Regions from separate parts of the Homo sapiens genome. Here region 1 is linked to region 2. The links come from fine-mapping of genetic effects on gene expression. Tissue or cell type: whole blood. Region 2 holds a variant in brackets; the other region holds the start of a gene. All regions are shown on one strand. Distances are between the middles of the regions.

What was found. PIP is the estimated chance that this variant, and not a neighbour inherited with it, causes the effect.
Region 1: it holds the start of L1TD1, and the variant in region 2 is fine-mapped to the expression of L1TD1 in whole blood (INTERVAL, PIP above 0.99).

What each region holds. Positions count from the first base shown.
Region 1 is chr1:62,191,352-62,199,529 of GRCh38, forward strand. It overlaps L1TD1 (LINE1 type transposase domain containing 1), which reads left to right and starts at 3,498. Exons shown (of 4, transcript NM_019079.5): 1 at 3,498-3,570; 2 at 5,084-5,177. RefSeq lists enhancers at 2,641-3,497, 3,498-4,353.
Region 2 is chr1:62,129,959-62,138,136 of GRCh38, forward strand. The region is part of intron 41 of PATJ (PATJ crumbs cell polarity complex component); the gene reads left to right. Among named protein-coding and RNA genes, the nearest start is that of MIR3116-2, 55 kb to the left of the region's middle. The variant A/T (reference allele first, on the strand shown) is at 4,935.

The DNA of each region.
Region 1 (8,178 bases), 61 kb after region 2:
TCCTGAGTAGCTGGGACTACAGGGGCCAGCCACCAAGCCTGGCTAATTTTTTTATATTTTTAGTAGAGACGGGGTTTCACCGTGTTAACCAGGATGTTCTCGATCTTCTGAGCTCGTGATCTGCCCGCCTCCGCCTCCCAAAGTGCTGGGATTACAGGCGTGAGCCACCGCACCCCGCCCATAATGTTTAACCTTGCCTTTTACTTAAAAGAATTCCGGGAACTGGCTTTAGGAAATCTAAATATTAAACTAAGGTTGTGGAGTGTCCCACCTCAGGAAGAAATGCTGAACAATTGATTTACAGCCTTGTTGCTGTTCGCCAGACCACCAGGTGGGTGATCCATTACTCAATAAAGCCATCAAAACCAGATAAGGCTGACCCGCATACTCTACCCCTCATGTGCTTTGCCCAGCCCAACCTGCATACTCTACCCCTGATTGTCTAATAAAGCAGAGTTAGTCAGGTAGTCCTCTCCGTTATGTCTGTGCATAAGCTCTAACAAGCCTTGTATGGGAACACTCCTTCAGCCTCATGTCAATTTCTATTGCACTGAGAGCCCAAGAACACGTGATCTTAAGTAACAGAAGGCTTTAACCTTTAAAAAATCTAATCACAGTAATCTTATTACACTGAAATTAACAGTTATTCTTTTTCTTTTTCGAGACGGAGTCTCGCTCTGTCGCCCACGCCGGAGTGCAGTGTCATGATCTCGGCTCACTGCAAGCCCCACCTCCCGGGATCACGCCATTCTCCTGCCTCAGCCTCCGGAGTAGCTGGGACTACAGGCGCCGGCCACCACGCCCGGCTAATTTTTTTGTATTTTTTAGTAGAGACGGGGTTTCACCGTTTTAGCCAGGATGGTCTCGATCTCCTGACCTCGTGATCCGCCCCGCCTCGGCCTCCCAAAGTGCTGGGATTACAGGCGTGAGCCACCGCGCCCAGCCCAACAGTTATTCTTAATATCATCAAATATCCAGTCAGTGTTCAAATTTTCGTTTTTTTTGTTTGTTTGAGACAGGGTCTTGCTCTGTCACCCAGGCTGGAGTGCAGTGGCACGATCTCAGCTCACTGCAACCTCCGTTTCCCAGGTTCAAGCGATTCGCCTGCCTCAACCTCCTGAGTAGCTGGGATTACAGGCACACACCACAACGCCTGGCTAATATTTGTACTTTTATAAGAGATGGGGTTTCACCATATTGGCCAGGCTTACCTCAGGTCTTAAACTCCTGACCTCAGGTGATCCACCTGCCTTGGACTCCCAAAGTGCTGGGATTACAGGCTTGAGCCACCTTGCCCAGTTTTTTTTTTTTTTTTTTTTAGACAAGGTCTTGCTCTGTCACCCAGGCTGGAGTGTAGTGGTGTGATTGTAACTGCCCAATGGGTTCACCTTGCCCACTGCCTACACAGAGCCCATTTATCAAGACAGGGGAATTGCAATAGAGAAAGAGTAATTCACACAGAGTGGGCTGTGTGGGAGACCAGAGTTTTATTACTCAAATCAATCTCCCCAAGCATTCAGGGATCAGAGTTTTTAAGGACAACTTGGTGGGAGGGGGGAAGCCAGTGAGCTGGGAGTGCTGATTGGTCAGATCAGAGATGAAATCATAGGGAGTCAAAGCTGTCTTCTTGCGCTGAATCAATTCCTGGGTGGGGGCCACCAAGATCATATCAGCCAGTTTATTGATCTGGGTGGTACCAGCTGATCCGTCAAGTGCAGGATCTGCAAAATATCTGTGGAATATCTCCCTGGTCTTAGGTTTTGCAGTAGTGGTCTTATCCCCAGAAGCCATTTGGGGAGAGTCAGAGTCTTGTAGCCTCCAGCTGCATGACTCCTAAACCATAATTTCTAATCCTGTGGCTAATTTGTTAGTACTGCAAAGGCAGTCTAAATCCCCAGGGTTTGTTTCGGGAAAGGGCTGTTATCATCTTTGTTTTAAACTATGAACAAGTGATCCTCCCACCTCAGCCTCCCAAAGTGCTGGGATTTTAGGCAGTAAGAAGAAATAAGGGATTAAAAGCAAAAGACCGAATTCTCTTTGTTTATTCATATGCTGTGTATTGACTGAACTACCAGATATTGAGGCTTCTTTGCTTATTAGCTGCATGACTTTGGGCAAGTCAAGTTCCACCTGAGCCTTGCAAGTCAGGCCTGGGGAGTCCAACCACCCAGAACCTTTGAGTCTCTGTTAGAGAGCAAGACCCTCTCTTAAGAAACAAAAATAAAACAAAAAAAGAGTATTGGGATATGGGGAGTTTGGCTCCTGTAGAAAGGGTAGTCTGGGAGGCCTGTTAGAGGAGTTAACATTGGACCTGAGACCTGAGGATGAACAGAAGCCATCCTGAAAGAACTGGGAAAATAAAGAGGTGGCCAGGCGTGGTGGCGCACGCCTGTAATCCCATCACTTTGGGAAGCTGAGGTGGGCGGATCACCAGGTCAGAAGTTCAAGACCAGCCTGACCAACATGGTGAAACCCCCCTCTACTAAAAATACAAAAACTAGCCAGGCGTGGTGGCATGGGCCTGTAATCTCAGCTACTCAGGAGGCTGAGGCAGGAGAAATCGCTTGAATCCAGGAGGCAGAGGTTGCAGTGAGCCGAGATTGCGCCACTGCACTCCAGCCTGGGTGACATAAGAAAACTCTGTCTCAAAAAGAAAAAAAAAAAATACAAAAATTTTCCGGGAGTGGTGGCGTGCTCCTGTAATCCCAGCTACTTGGGAGGCTAAGGCAGGAGAATTGCTTGAACCCAGGAGGCCGGGGTTGCAGTGAGCCAAGATCATGCCACTGCACTCCAGCTGTGGCAACAGAGACTGTCTCAAAAAAAAAAAAAAAGAAAGAAAGAAAGAAAGAAAAAGAAAAAAATAACTCGCAGAGGAAACAGCCAGTGCAAGGGCCCTGAGGCAGGTAGTTCCGTGTTTTTTGAGGAACAGAAAGAGAGTGTTTCTGTTGTAAGAGTAGTGCTAAGACAATGTTGAAGGGGCAGTCCGGATAGAATGAGAAGGTAGAAATTTAACCGAAACAGGAAGCCACTGAACAGTATTGGAGGGGGAGAAGGATTACAGAGGGGTCGTGGGAGAGGCCAGGGAGCAGTTGGAGGTGATTTCAGTGATCCAGGTGAGAGACAACGGGGGCTTGGACTGGGCTGGAGCTGTGGAGTTGGAGAGACGCCGGCAAATTCAAGGACTTAGGAATGGATTAACTGCGAGGGTTGAAGAAAAGGAATGAGGTGACCTTGGGGTTCAGGCCTGGGTGATGAGGCGCTTTAGTGGTGCCTTTATTCAGATTTGAGTCTGGAGTCGGGTCTGAGGGGTGGGGCTCGTTCAAGCGGAGGCACGGTGGAGACAGAGGGAATTGGACTCAGTCGGGGGGCAGCAATGGAAGTCAGCAATTGCTTAGGGCGGAATGCGATTTCCGGGGAGGAGGCGCGGGTATGTAGACAGAGGGGGTTGGGACACACCAGGAGGGGAGGAGCCAGCCCCAGAGATCGGGAATCCTCTCAGTCCTTAGTTACAAGGCTCCATCCTCACTTTGTTCGCTCCTCAGTCGTCCAGGCGGATTCCTTTTTCGCCAGGTAAGGCTGGCCCGGGTGCATGGGGCCCGGCGTGCCCTGGGTAAGGCTGGCCCAGGCGCGTGGGGTCCGGGGCGCGCCGGGTAAGGCTGGGCCAGGCGCGTGGGGTCCGGGGTGCCCCGGGTAAGGCTGGTCCAGGGGCGTGGGGTCCGGGGTGCCCCGGGTAAGGCTGGTCTAGGCGCGTGGGGTCCGCAGCGCCCCAAGTAAGGCTGGTCCAGGAGCGTGAGGTCCAGGGTGCCCCGGATAAGGCTGGTCCAGGCGCGAAGGGCGCGGGGTGCCCCGGGTAAGGCTGGCCCAGGTACGTGAGGCCCGAGGTGCCCCAGGCAAGGCTGATCCGGGTGCGTGCGTGGGGCCCGGGTAGGGGCAGGCAGTTGGCCCCCTCACTTGACTCCCTGCTCTTTCCCTTACTGTCCGTGGCGCAATGAGAAAAAAACTCTCCTAAGACTTATCTATCCCCAAATTGGAAACATGAAAGTAGTTCTGTGAAGAAAAAATAAAGTCAAGAAAATGAGGTGGTGCTTGACAAGTCCTAGCTTTAGAAAAAGGATGGAGGGGCCGGGAGCAGTGGCTCACGCCTGTAATCCCAGCACTTTGGGAAGCCGAGGCGGGCGGATCACCTGAGGTCGGAGTTCGAGACCATCCTGACCAACATGGAGAAACCTCGTCTCTACTAAAAATACAAAATTAGCCAGGCGTGGTGGCGCATGCCTGTAATCCTAGCTACTCAGGAGGCTGAGGCAGGAGAATCGCTTGAACCCGAGAGGCAGAGGTTGCACTGAGACGAGATCGCGCCATTGCGCTCCAGACTGGGCAACAGGGGCGAAACTGTCTCAAATAAAAAAAGATGGAGGGCCGGGCGTGTTATTTTCCAGCACTTTGGGAGGCCGAGGCGGGGGCGGATCACGAGGTCAGGAGATCGAGACCATCCTGGCCAACTTGGGAAACCCCGTCTCTACCAAAAATACAAAATTAGCCGGGTGTGTTGGCTCGCGCCTGTAGTCCCAGCTACTAGGGAGGCCGAGGCAGGAGAATCGCTTGAACCGGGGAGGCGGAGGTTGCAGTGAGCCGAGATCGGGCCACTACACTCCAGCCTGGGCGGCAGAGCGAAACTCCGTCTCAAAAAAAAAAAAAAGTGTTTAATTATGTGACTGGAAAAATTGATTTGGAAGTAATAACTTTTGCATTTTCTTCAATTTCCTCCGATTGTTAGGCAAATCGAATTCTTGTTCAAATTGCAAAAGGAAAGCGTGCCTTCCATAATAATAGACCCCAACTCTCACAAAGAAGAAACCATTCTCTCCGGCCCCTCCCTGGCCTCCTCAGATCCACCTCTGGGTCCTCCCATTCCCTGCAGCCCTCTCCCGACTTACACCCCAGACTCTGCTAATTGTGTGTGCCTTTTTAAGCAAACACATGCATAGATAAGTGCTTTTTTTTCCCAGTCTTCAATATAAGGTGATTTTCTACATTAAATAAACCTTAAACTTTGGTGTTATGAACTTGACTTGAATTCTAGGCACCAAGGCACAGCTTAGAGTAGACCCGAGTCCTGCTCTGCGGAGTTCGTCTTCCCAGCGAAGGTACAGAGGCGGATGAACTGCTGAGACTTGGTAAGTAGTTTAGTGGATTAGGGGTAGGATTAGTGGCGGGTAAGTGTGCGGGTGGGGTTGGGGTGGGGTATTTCATTTTTTGAGACGGAGTTTCGCTCTTGTCGCCCAGGCTGGAGTGCAATGGTGCCATCTCCGCTCACTGCAACCTACGCCTCCTGGGTTCAAGCGATTCTACTCCCTCAGCCTCCCAAGTAGCTGGGATTACAGGCGCCTGCCATTATACCCGGCTAATTTTTGTATTTTTAGTAGAGACGGGGTTTTGCCATTCGGCCAGGGTGGTCTCGAGCTCCTGACCTCAGGTGATCCTTCCACCTCCATCTCCTAAAGTGATGGGATTACAGGCGTGAGTCACTGCGCCTGGACTGGGGAGGGGTATTTTAGAGTGAAACAAGGGAAATGACCTTGGGTCTGATAAAGAAATGAGCCCTACTTATAATCTAGTGTGGGTCAGGACCCTTTTGCAGTCTGGTGCTATTAGCAGAACCCACAGTTCGTCATCGCTAGAAACCACATTTTGTTTCACATAACAGTTGTTGCAGGTTTTGCATTCTCACTACTTCAAGATTAAAAGGTAGGGCCAGGTGTGGTGGCTCACACCTGTAATCCCAGCACTTTGGGAGGTTGAGGAGGCCAGATCACTTAAGGTCAGCAGTTCGAGACCAGTCTGGCCAACATGGCGAAACCCCATCTCTACTAAAAAGTACCAAAATTAGCTGGGCATGGTGGCACGCTCCTGTAGTCCCAGCTACGTGGGAGGCTGAGGCAGGAGAATCGCTTGAACCTGGGAGGTGGAGGTTGCAGTGAGCCGAGATCCTGCCATTTCACTCCAGCCTGGGCAAGAGTGAGACGCCCTCTCAAAAAAAATAAATTATATATATATATATATATATATATATATATATATAGTTTAGTCCTGCTACTCAATCTTGTTTAGTAGTAGGTTAAGAAGCTCATATATTCCAAATTTTTTATTATCTAAAAAAGTTTTTTAGAGATGGTTTTGCTATGTTGCACAGGCTGGTCTCAAATTCCTGGCCTCAAGTGCTCCTGCTGCCCCGAAAGGTGCTGGGATTACAGGCTTGAGCCACCGCACCCAGCCCAGCACTTTGGGAGGCCGAGGTGGGCGGATCACCTGAGGTCTGGAGCTGGAGACCAGCCTGGCCAACATGGTGAAGCCCCATCCCTAAAAATACAAAAATTAGCTGGGTGCAGTGGTGCACGCTTGTAGTCCCAGCTACTCGGGAGGCTGAGGCAGGAGAATCACTTGAACCTGGGAAGCGGGGGTTGCAGTGAGCTGAGATTGTGCCACCTGCACTTCAGCCTGGGCGACAGTGAGACTCTGTCTCAAAAACAGAAGAAAACAAAACAAAACAAAACAAAACCCTGTAAATTACTTGAATGCCCACTGCTGAGGGAATTACTTATTGAACCAAAATATGTTCAAAATATGGCATGTCACACATAGAAGAGTGAGGTGTGCATATATAACTGGAAGATTACAAATGGCCTATTGAAAAAAAGAAAATAGTGTTAAAAGTATAAAGCTATTAAAAAAAAGTAAATGTCCCCATACCCAAGGAGAGAGACGTACTAACTAGAAGTCGAAGTTGGCATTCTCCTTTATTGTCCTCCCATGCACCCATAAAAACCAGGCACTTTATCTTGGTATGGTAGCATGCCTGTAATACCAGCTCCTCAGGAGACTGAGGTGAGAGGATCACTTGGTCCCTGGAGTTTGTGACCAGCGAACAGTGATCACACCACTGCTTGCCACGCTGGGCGAGAGTGAGATCTCAAAAAAAAAAGCAAAAACACAAAAGTCACCTGTACGTTGTGAGAGATACCACACCAAACTTTGGGTGGCCTCAGAGGTCAGATAATAGAGACTGAGGTGAGGGACTAGTAATTGTTCTTATTTAAAAAAAAAAAAAAGAAGAAAAGAGAAGTCCATAATCCCCCCAGCAAATTCAGAAAAACACACACACCGACCCCCCGCCGCCGCCCCACCCCGCCGATAAGAACAGGCTGCCAGTGTTGAAAAGGTAATACACCACAAAGGAAATGCAAGCAGATAAACATATGAAAAGATGGCAGTCACAAGCCAAGGCAATGCAAATCAACAAGCTTTTTTCCATCCCTAAAATTAAAGGAAGTTTATCCGCCCTCCCAACCCCCAGTCCCTTGAGGGAAGTGCTAAACATTTCTTGCCCTTTCCAACCGGTGCTCTCCTGTATTGTATACTTTTAAAGTAACCTCCTTAAAATACAAAGCAGAACTTGGGAGTACACTGGTGAAAATCTCCGGTCTCCCTAATCACTTTTTTTTTTTTGGCAGGGTCTTGCTCTGTCACCCAGGCTGGAATGCAGTGATGCAATCATAGCTTAGAGTAACCTTGAACTCCTGGGCTCAAATAATCTGACCGCCTCAGCCTCCCAAGTAGCTGGGACTGCAGGCAGAAGCCAGGACGTCTGGTCCCTGAGCCCTTTTGATGGCTACCATCCAACCCTGAGACAAAATTTGCTAAACTTGTACCAGCCTCTGCTTTCTTCTTGATCAGGGATTTTGAACCCAGAGTGCCTGGGTAGTGTCTGGCTAGAATTCAGAGTATCTGATATCTTGGATGTGAAAAAGGTCACATATATTTATTGTCATTAAACGCTAATCATAATTTAGCATTTAGCATTTGAGGCTGGGAGCAGTGGCTCATGTTTGTAATCTCAGCACTTTGGGAGGCTGAGGCAGGTGGATCACCTGAGGTCAGGAGTTTGAAACCAGCCTGGCCAACATGGTGAAACCCCGTCTCTACTAAAAATACAAAAATTAGCCGGGCATGGTGGCGTGTGCCTGTTGTCCCAGCAACTCAGGAGGCTGAGGCGGGAGAATCGCTTGAACCCAGGAGGCAGAGTTTGCAGTGAGCCAAGATTGTGCCACTGCACTCCAGCCTAATCCACAGAGTGAGACTCTTGTATCAAAAAAAAAAAAAAATCAGCATTTGATACAG
Region 2 (8,178 bases):
GTTTATAGGTATAAAGAATAAAGCCCACCACTTACTACCTTAGAGAGAGGGCCAGCCAGCCACTCATCATTCTAGCCTTAAAATAAGAAGTTTGGGCTGAGTGCAGTGGCTCACACCTATAGTCCCAGCACTTTGGGAGGCTGAAGCAGGAGGATCACTTGAGGCCAGCAGTACAAGACCAGCCTAGGCCATAGCAAGATCCCGTCTCTACAAAAAAGTTAAAAAGTTAGCCCGGCATGGTGGTGTGTGCCTGTAGTCTTAGCTACTCAAGAGACTGAAGCAGGAGGATGGCTTGAGCCCAAGAGTTGGAGGCTACAGTGAGCCAGTATTGTGCCACTGCATTCCTGCCTGGGCAGCAGAGTGAGACCCTGGCTCAAAATAAATAAAAATCATATAGGAAGTTCAAATTGAAAAACCATTACATAGCTGGGCATAGTGGCTCACGCCTATAATCCCAACACTCTGGGAGGCCAAGGCAGGAGAATTGCTTGAGCCCAGGAGTTTTGAGACCAGCCTGGGCAACATGGTATGATACCCCATCTCTACAAAAAAAATAAAAATAAAAATTTAATTTTAATAATAAAAAATAAAAATTAGAAAAAAAGAAAAACTGCTGGGCACGGTGGCTCACACCTGTAATCCCAGCACTTTGGGAGGCTGAGGCGGGCGGATCACGAGGTCAAGAGATTGAGACCATCCTGGCTAACATGGTGAAACCCCATCTCTACTAAAAATACAAAAAATTAGCCGGGCATGGTGGCGGGCGCCTATAGTCCCAGCTACTGGGGAGGCTGAGGCAGGAGAATGGCGTGAACCTGGGAGGCAGAGCTTGCAGTGAGACGAGATGGCACCACTGCACTCCATCCTGGGCGACAGAGCAAGACTCCGTCTCAAAAGAAAAAAAGAAAAACCATTACATTTGGGAGAAGCAATTTGTGGTGTTTTACATCTCTGTGGTGTAAGTCCAAAGTGTCCAGACATTTAAAAAGTAAGTGGCTTTCAGTATGTATGAGGGGTATAATGAAAATCCTGTCAGTTTACTATCACACTAGTCTTTAAGTTAAAATTTTAAAAGAAAGAAAAGAAAATCCTGTCATTAATTTCAAGGGAGTTTATGTGATAGGCCAAATATTATTAAATTATTTGGGTCCCTGATTTTCTATTGAACACAAACCAAAACACTGTGCGGACTGGGCATAGAATCTGCTTCCCCTCAACTCCTGGTCCTCACTTTCAGTGGAAACCTACACAGTTAACTGCATTGCTTCCTCCACCCTACAAATCCTTTGCTTTCTGAAATGGGTGGCTGTGCTTGCTCATCCTTCACGTTATGCTGACCCCTAGAGGCAGTACAGTGCAGCTCTTCAGTGCTGAGCCCAGGACCTTGAATTACAAAGACCTTAGGAGGATCCTACTTCAAATGGTAACTGACCAGAAAAAAGTCTCTCTCCCTTAGCAAAATCTAGTATTATTGATATTTTCACACATGGATATAATTTGTTCAGCTCTGTCTTCCTCACAAATAAATAAGAAGACACAATTAGCCAGGTGTGGTAGCGCATGCCTGTAATCCCAGCTACTCAGGAGGCTAAGGCAGGAGAATTGCTTGAACTCAGGAGGCGGAGGTTGCAATGAGCCAAGATCACCCCATTGCACCCCAGCATGGGCTACAAGAGTCAGACTCCGTCTCAAAAAAAAAAGGCACATAGAAACTAGCTGCTCGGAGGATGAGGCAGGAAGATCACTTGAGCCCAAGAGTTTGAGGCTGCAGTGAGCTATGATTATAGCACTGCACTCAGCTTGGGTGACAGAGTGAGATCCCAGCTCTAAATAAGTAAATAATAACATTATTTAACTATAATGTCATAATAATAAAAACCAATATAACCAAATATTAGGATGAATGAATTATTATTTTTTTTTTTTTGAGATGGAGTCTCGCTCTGTTGTCTAGGCTGGAGTGCACTGCAACCTCCCCCTCCCGGGTTCAAGCAAGTCTCCTGCCTCAGCCTCCCAAGTAGCTGGGACTACAAGCATGCACCACCATACCTGGCTAATTTTATATTTTCAGTAGAGATGGGATTTCACCATGTTGGCCAGGCTGGTCTCAAACTCCTGACCTCAAGTGATCTGCCCGCCTTGGCCTCCCAAAGTTCTGGGAGTACAGGCATGAGCCACCACGCCCAGCTGAATGAATTATTAGTAGCATGGGGATTTGTGGTGTTTTGGTAGAAGGAAAATGTGAGTTAAATCTTTATCTTCCACAATAAGAAGTGATTAGATATCAAAAATTTTAAAATCAAGAAATAGAAGTAAAACTGTTATTTAAGAATATGGAAGCACAGCCTGGCCAACATAGAGAAACCTTGTCTCTACTAAAAATACAAAAAAGTAGCCGGATTGGCGGTGCACCTCTGTAATCCTGGCTGCTCAGGAGGCTGAGGCGGGAGAATCGCTTGAACCCCAGGGGCAGAGGTTGTAGTGAGCCAAGATCTCGCCACTGCATTCTGGCCTGGGCAACGTGAATATGGAAGCAAATACTAGGAGAAACAGCTGAAAGTAGTTGCTTTTAGGGAGTAAGAATCTGTAATGGGGGTAAAGGAGCAAGGACTCTTTCATTAAATACTATAGAATCATTTTGACTTTTTAAATTATATAAATGGGCCGGGTGCAGTGGTTCACACCTATAATCCCAGCAATTTGGGAGGTCGAGGCTGGCAGATCGCTTGAGCCCAGAAGTTTGAGACCAGCTTGGGCAACATGGTGAGACCCCGTCTCTACAAAAAAATACAAAAATTAGTCGTGCATAGTGGCATGCACTTGTAGTCCCAGCTACTGGCGAGGCTGGGGTGGGAGGATTGCTTGAGCCCGGGGGGCAGAGGTTGCAGTGAGCCAAGATCGTGCCACTGCACTCCGGCCTGGATGACAGTGAGACCCTGTCTCAAAATTAAAAAAAAAAAATTACATAAGTAAGTGAATAGGTGTGATTTTTTTTTAATTGAGGTAAAAAGTTGTTGGAAAGTATTAGAACTACAGAGGATTGAGTAGATTTTTAAAACACAGGAAACAAGTAGAACTTAGAAATGATGTAACAGTTAAGTGGAAGAGTTTGGCGAGCTAAATTTTCATCTCTTAGAGTAGGGAGTCAGTGGACACCAAGATAGTACATTTCAAAATAGGCATATAAGAATATTATTTAGCTTATTCTTTAGAATTAAAAAGAGAAAAGTTCAATGTGCTTCTAGGGAGGGCAAGTGTTGAATTTTTTTTATCATGTACTGTACTATTTCATTTTTTATTATGTACACACAAAAAAGAAATATTTAGAAAAAATAGAATATGGCCAGGCGTGGTGGCTCATACCTGTAATCCCAGCATTTTGGGAGGCCAAGGCAGGTGGATCACCTGAGGTCAGGAGTTTGAGACCAGCCTGGCCAACATGGTGAAATCCCATCTCTACTGAAAATACAAAAATTAGCCGGGTGTGTTGGCACATGCCTGTAGTCCCAGCTACTTGGGAGGCTGAGGCAGGAGAACAGCTTGAACCCGGAGAGTAGAGGTTGCAGTAGCCGAGATTGCACCACTGCTGTCCAGCCTAGTCGAGAGTGAGACACCGTCTCGAGAAAAAAGAATAGAAAAGAACCAAGAATATAGGTCTGTTTGAAAAGCAGCTAAACAGATTTGAGTAGAATGGTGCTTCTCAAACTTTAGCACGCTCTGGAAACACCTGGAGGGCTCCCCCAGCCTTTCTGATTTTGCAGGAGTGGAGTGGGATTCAAGAATTTGCTTTTTTTTTTTTTTTTTTTGAGACAGAGTTGCGCTCTGAAGCCCAGGCTGGAGTGCAGTGGCACAATCTCGGCTCCACTGAGCCTCCACCTCCTGGGTTCAAGCAATTCTCCTGCATCAGCCTCCCCAGTAGCTGGGACCACAGGCACCCACCACCATGCCCGGCTAATTTTTGTATTTTAGTAGAGACAGGGTTTCACCATGTTGGCCAGGCTGGTCTCAAACTCCTGACCTCAGGTGATCCGCCTGCCTTGGCCTCCCACAGTGCTGAGATTACAGGTGTGAGCCACCGTGCCCAGCCAATTTTGCATTTCTTCTAACAAGCTCCTAGGTATTGGTGATGCTGCTAATTCAGATCCCATGCCTCAGACCCAGTGGAGTAGAGCATTATTTAGGGATGAAAAAGGTCTCCCCACGTTATTCTCTTCATCTGAAACACCCTTCTCACCGTACTCTCGTCTTTTTTTTTTTTTTTTTTTAAGAGAGAGACAAGGTCTCATTATTGGCCTGCACTCAAGAGACTGTCCCACCTCAGCCTCCCAAAGTGCTGGGATTACAGGTGTGAGCCATCGCACCCAGCCCTCTCTTTTTTTTTTTTTTTTTTTCTTTTTACTTTTTGAGACTGAGTTTTGCTCTTGTTGCCCAGGCTGGAGTGCAATGGCGTGATCCTGGCTCGCTGCAACTTCCATCTCCCAGGTTCAAGCGATTCTCCTGCCTCAGCCTCCCGAGTAGCTGGGATTACAGGCATGTGCCACCACGCCCAGCTAATTTTGTATTTTTAGTAGAGACGGGGTTTCACCATGTTGGTCAGCCTGGTCTCAAACTCCTGACCTTAGGTGATCCGCCCGCCTCAGCCTCCCAAAGTGCTGGGATTACTGGTGTGAGCCACCACGCCCGGCCTCTTTTCTTTATAAATATTGGAAAATCCTTTGTTTAGAAACTCTCCATCGAAGAATAGGGAGTGCCTGGGTGTTGATGTCCTTCCAGACCATGGTTCTCCAAAGCTGGAGAAATCTGTGTCTGTGCCTCGGGCGCAGGCCTCGCCCAGAGCAGATACCTCCTCAGTGCTGCCCACATGGAGTTGCTGAGCCATTCCAATCAAGCTGAAGGACATGAACTAATAGGGGAACAAATCAGCACAGTTACCA[A/T]TGTAGTCCAGAAAAATTCCAGGAGGGGAGGAAGACGGATGGCTTACCCAGGGTTGGAAATGGAAAAGGTGTGTCATTGAGGGTGCAGAGCAGGCGCGTCATGGCCTATGTGAGTATCACTAAAGGAATGATCTGCTATTAGGTCTTTACCTTAGTTGCATAATAAAATCACTGATTTTAATACCTGTTCCTGGGCCCCACCCCAGAGGTTCAGATTTAATTTTTCTGGGATATGGCATGGACATCAGATGATTTTAAAATTTCTCAGGTGATTCTAATATGCAGCCAGGGGTAAGAAAAGTAGTCTCCAGGGTTTGCAAATAAAAAGCCAACTAATGCTTAGGCCAGGTGTGGTGGCTCACGCCTGTAATCCCAGCACTTTGGGAGGCCGAGGTGGGGGGGATCGCTTCAGGTCAGGAGTTCAAGACCAGCCTGGCCAACGTGGTGAAACCCCCTCTACTAAAAATACAAAAATAAGCCAGGCATGGTAATGCATACCTGTAATCCCAGCTACTCAGGAGGCTGAGGCAGGAGAATTGCTTGAACTCGGGAGGCAGAGGTTGCAATGAGATGAGATCGCGCCACTGCACTCCATCCTGGGTGACAGAGCGAGACTCCGTCTCAAAAAAAAAAAAAAAAAAAAAAAGCCAAATTAATGCCATGAAGACAGTGATAAACTGCAGGAAAAGGACAAAGACCCAAGGTTTGAAAGTTGAAATGAACACCTAGCCCAAGTTAGGTAGGAGAGGTAGGCTGTAGTGTCAGAAAGTCGTGAGTTTGAATCCTTTTACTAAAGTCTCACCTTCTATTCCTCTAAAACAGGGACTGTGGAGCTCCTTTCTTAAAAAGGTTGCTCTGAGGATTAGATGAAGTGTGATGTAAAGTGTCTAATAAATACAGGATGTTGCAAATGATAAATACTAAGTGGTATCTTATTACTTTCATTGTACTAACATAGGCTTGAAGTTAGAGGATACTAAAATTCCTTTATAAAATCCTGGAAGTGGAGTGGTTTTCCAGGTGGCATTTGAGGTGTGTGCCACTAGGTGGCAATGTGGCTGGAAGTCAGTTTGCCCTTTTCGAATTTTACTCCAAGTGCTTCACACTTCTTCAGACCATTAGATTTTTTTTTTTTTTTTTTTTTTTTTTTTTGAGACAGAGTTTCGCTCTTGTTACCCAGACTGGAATGCAATGGTGCAATCTCAGCTCACTGCAACCTCTGCCTCCTGGGTTTAAGCAATTCTCCTGCCTCAGCCTCCTGAGTAGCTGAGCTGGGATTACAGGCTCACACCGCCACGCCCGGCTAATTTTGTGTTTTTTGTAGAGATGGGGTTTCTCCATGTTGGTCAGGCTGGTTTTGAACTCCTGACCTCAAGTGATCCGCCCATCTCGGCCTCCCAAAGTGCTGGGATTACAGGTGTGAGCCGCCACGCCCAGCCCGATCATTAAATTTTTAACAGACACATAAAAATCAATATATTCTGGTGTCACTAAAATCAGGGTCACTAGATTCTGGACAAAAACTTTAAGCAGCTGTGCTTTCTATTTCAGTAAGTTACACCAAAGGCCAGGCATGGGCTTTTCTTGTGTGTGTGTGTGTGTGTGTGTGTTTTTCTGTAATGTGTCCCCATCTTAAGATGCCAGCTTTCTCAGGGATCACCTTAACTTTACAGCCTTCCTGTTTGTTTTCAACATGTGTGCACCCATAGTTTGAGGGTCCAGCTGCATGTAAGTGCTGAGGATTTTTATGTTTTGCGTGTGTGTGTGTGTGTCTGTGTGTGTGTGTGTGTGTGTGTGTGTCTGTGTGTGTGTGTGGTGTGTTGTTTTTTTGAGACAGGGTCTCACTCTGTCCCCCAGGCTGGAGTGCAGTGGCACAATCATGGCTCACAGCAGCCTTGATCTGCCAGGCTCAAGCAATCCTCCAACCTCAGCCTCCCAAAGTGCTGGGATTACAGGCATGAGCCGCCACACCCAGCCAGTGCTAAATTTCAGATTTGGTACTGAAAGGCTTGGGTCCTAATAAGTCTAAGGGCTAATCATCTTCTTTCGCAGGAACCTTTAGGAGAGTTCTAAGCAAGGAGCTCAAGCTTTTATGCATTGTAATATCTTTCTTATCTGGAAATTATTTTGACTTCTCAATTCTCCAAAACATAATACCTAAACCTGTTTTTAAAGAAAGATACTCAACCTAGGTCCATGCAGTAAAGACCTCTACTTTATTACTCATTTCGAAAGCTTAATAAATACACAATATTTCACTGTAGAACATATAGTTCTAATTAAGTTTAATGTTCCTTTTACCCTAAGTTATTAAATGCAACATGGAGGCAAAGCACAAGAGAGTACATGAAAATAAATATCTTCTTAAAGGAAAACAGTGGGGAAGGTGGCACAAATTAAGGAAATTCACATCAGAGGGAGAACCCTGTTGGAGAAACAGTGAGGGGGAAACCCATTGGCAGAAGGAAACATGGAATAAGTGAGTTTCGTCGGAGGGGGGAACATAGAATGAGGGGGAACAGCAGCCTGAGGGGTAAATGCCTCTGGAGGGGGGAACACAGAGTGAGGGGGCACAGCAGCCTGAGGGGGAAATGCCTCTGGAGGGGGGAACACAGAGTGAGGGGGCACAGCAGTCTGAGGGGGAAATGCCTCTGGAGGGGGGAACACAGAGTGAGGGGGGACAGAGGCCTGAGGGGGAAATGCCTCCGGAGGGGGGGACACAGAGTGAGGGGGGACAGAGGCCTGAGGGGGAAATACCTCTGGAGGGGGGAACACAGAATGAGGGGGGATAGCAGTTTGTGGGGGGAACACAGATTGAGAGGGAAGCAGGCTTGTCTGTTCTTCCACAGATGCAAACGTCTCTAACTGTTCCGTAGGCGCAGAGGACAAGGCTGCAGCCTCCCCGTCCTCTGGTGGGAGGATTTCTTCCTGCTTTTTCTTCAGGCCAGTGGCCTCCCTCACCTCAGGTGGGGGGATCTCCTCCTTCTCTTCCTTCAGGTCCATAGTCTCCTCCTCAGGTGGGGGGATTTTCTCCACCTCTTCCTTCAGGTTCACAGTCTCCTCTTCCTCGGATGAGGAGATTTTCTCCACCTCTTTCTTCAGGTCTGTGGCCTCCCCCTCTTTGGGTTGGGAGAGTTCCTTCTCTTCCTTCAGACCAGGGGTCTCCTCCACCTCAGGTCGGCAATTACTAAATATTTGATCATAAGAGTTGGGGAGGATGAGGGGAAACCAAGTAGTTCATTAA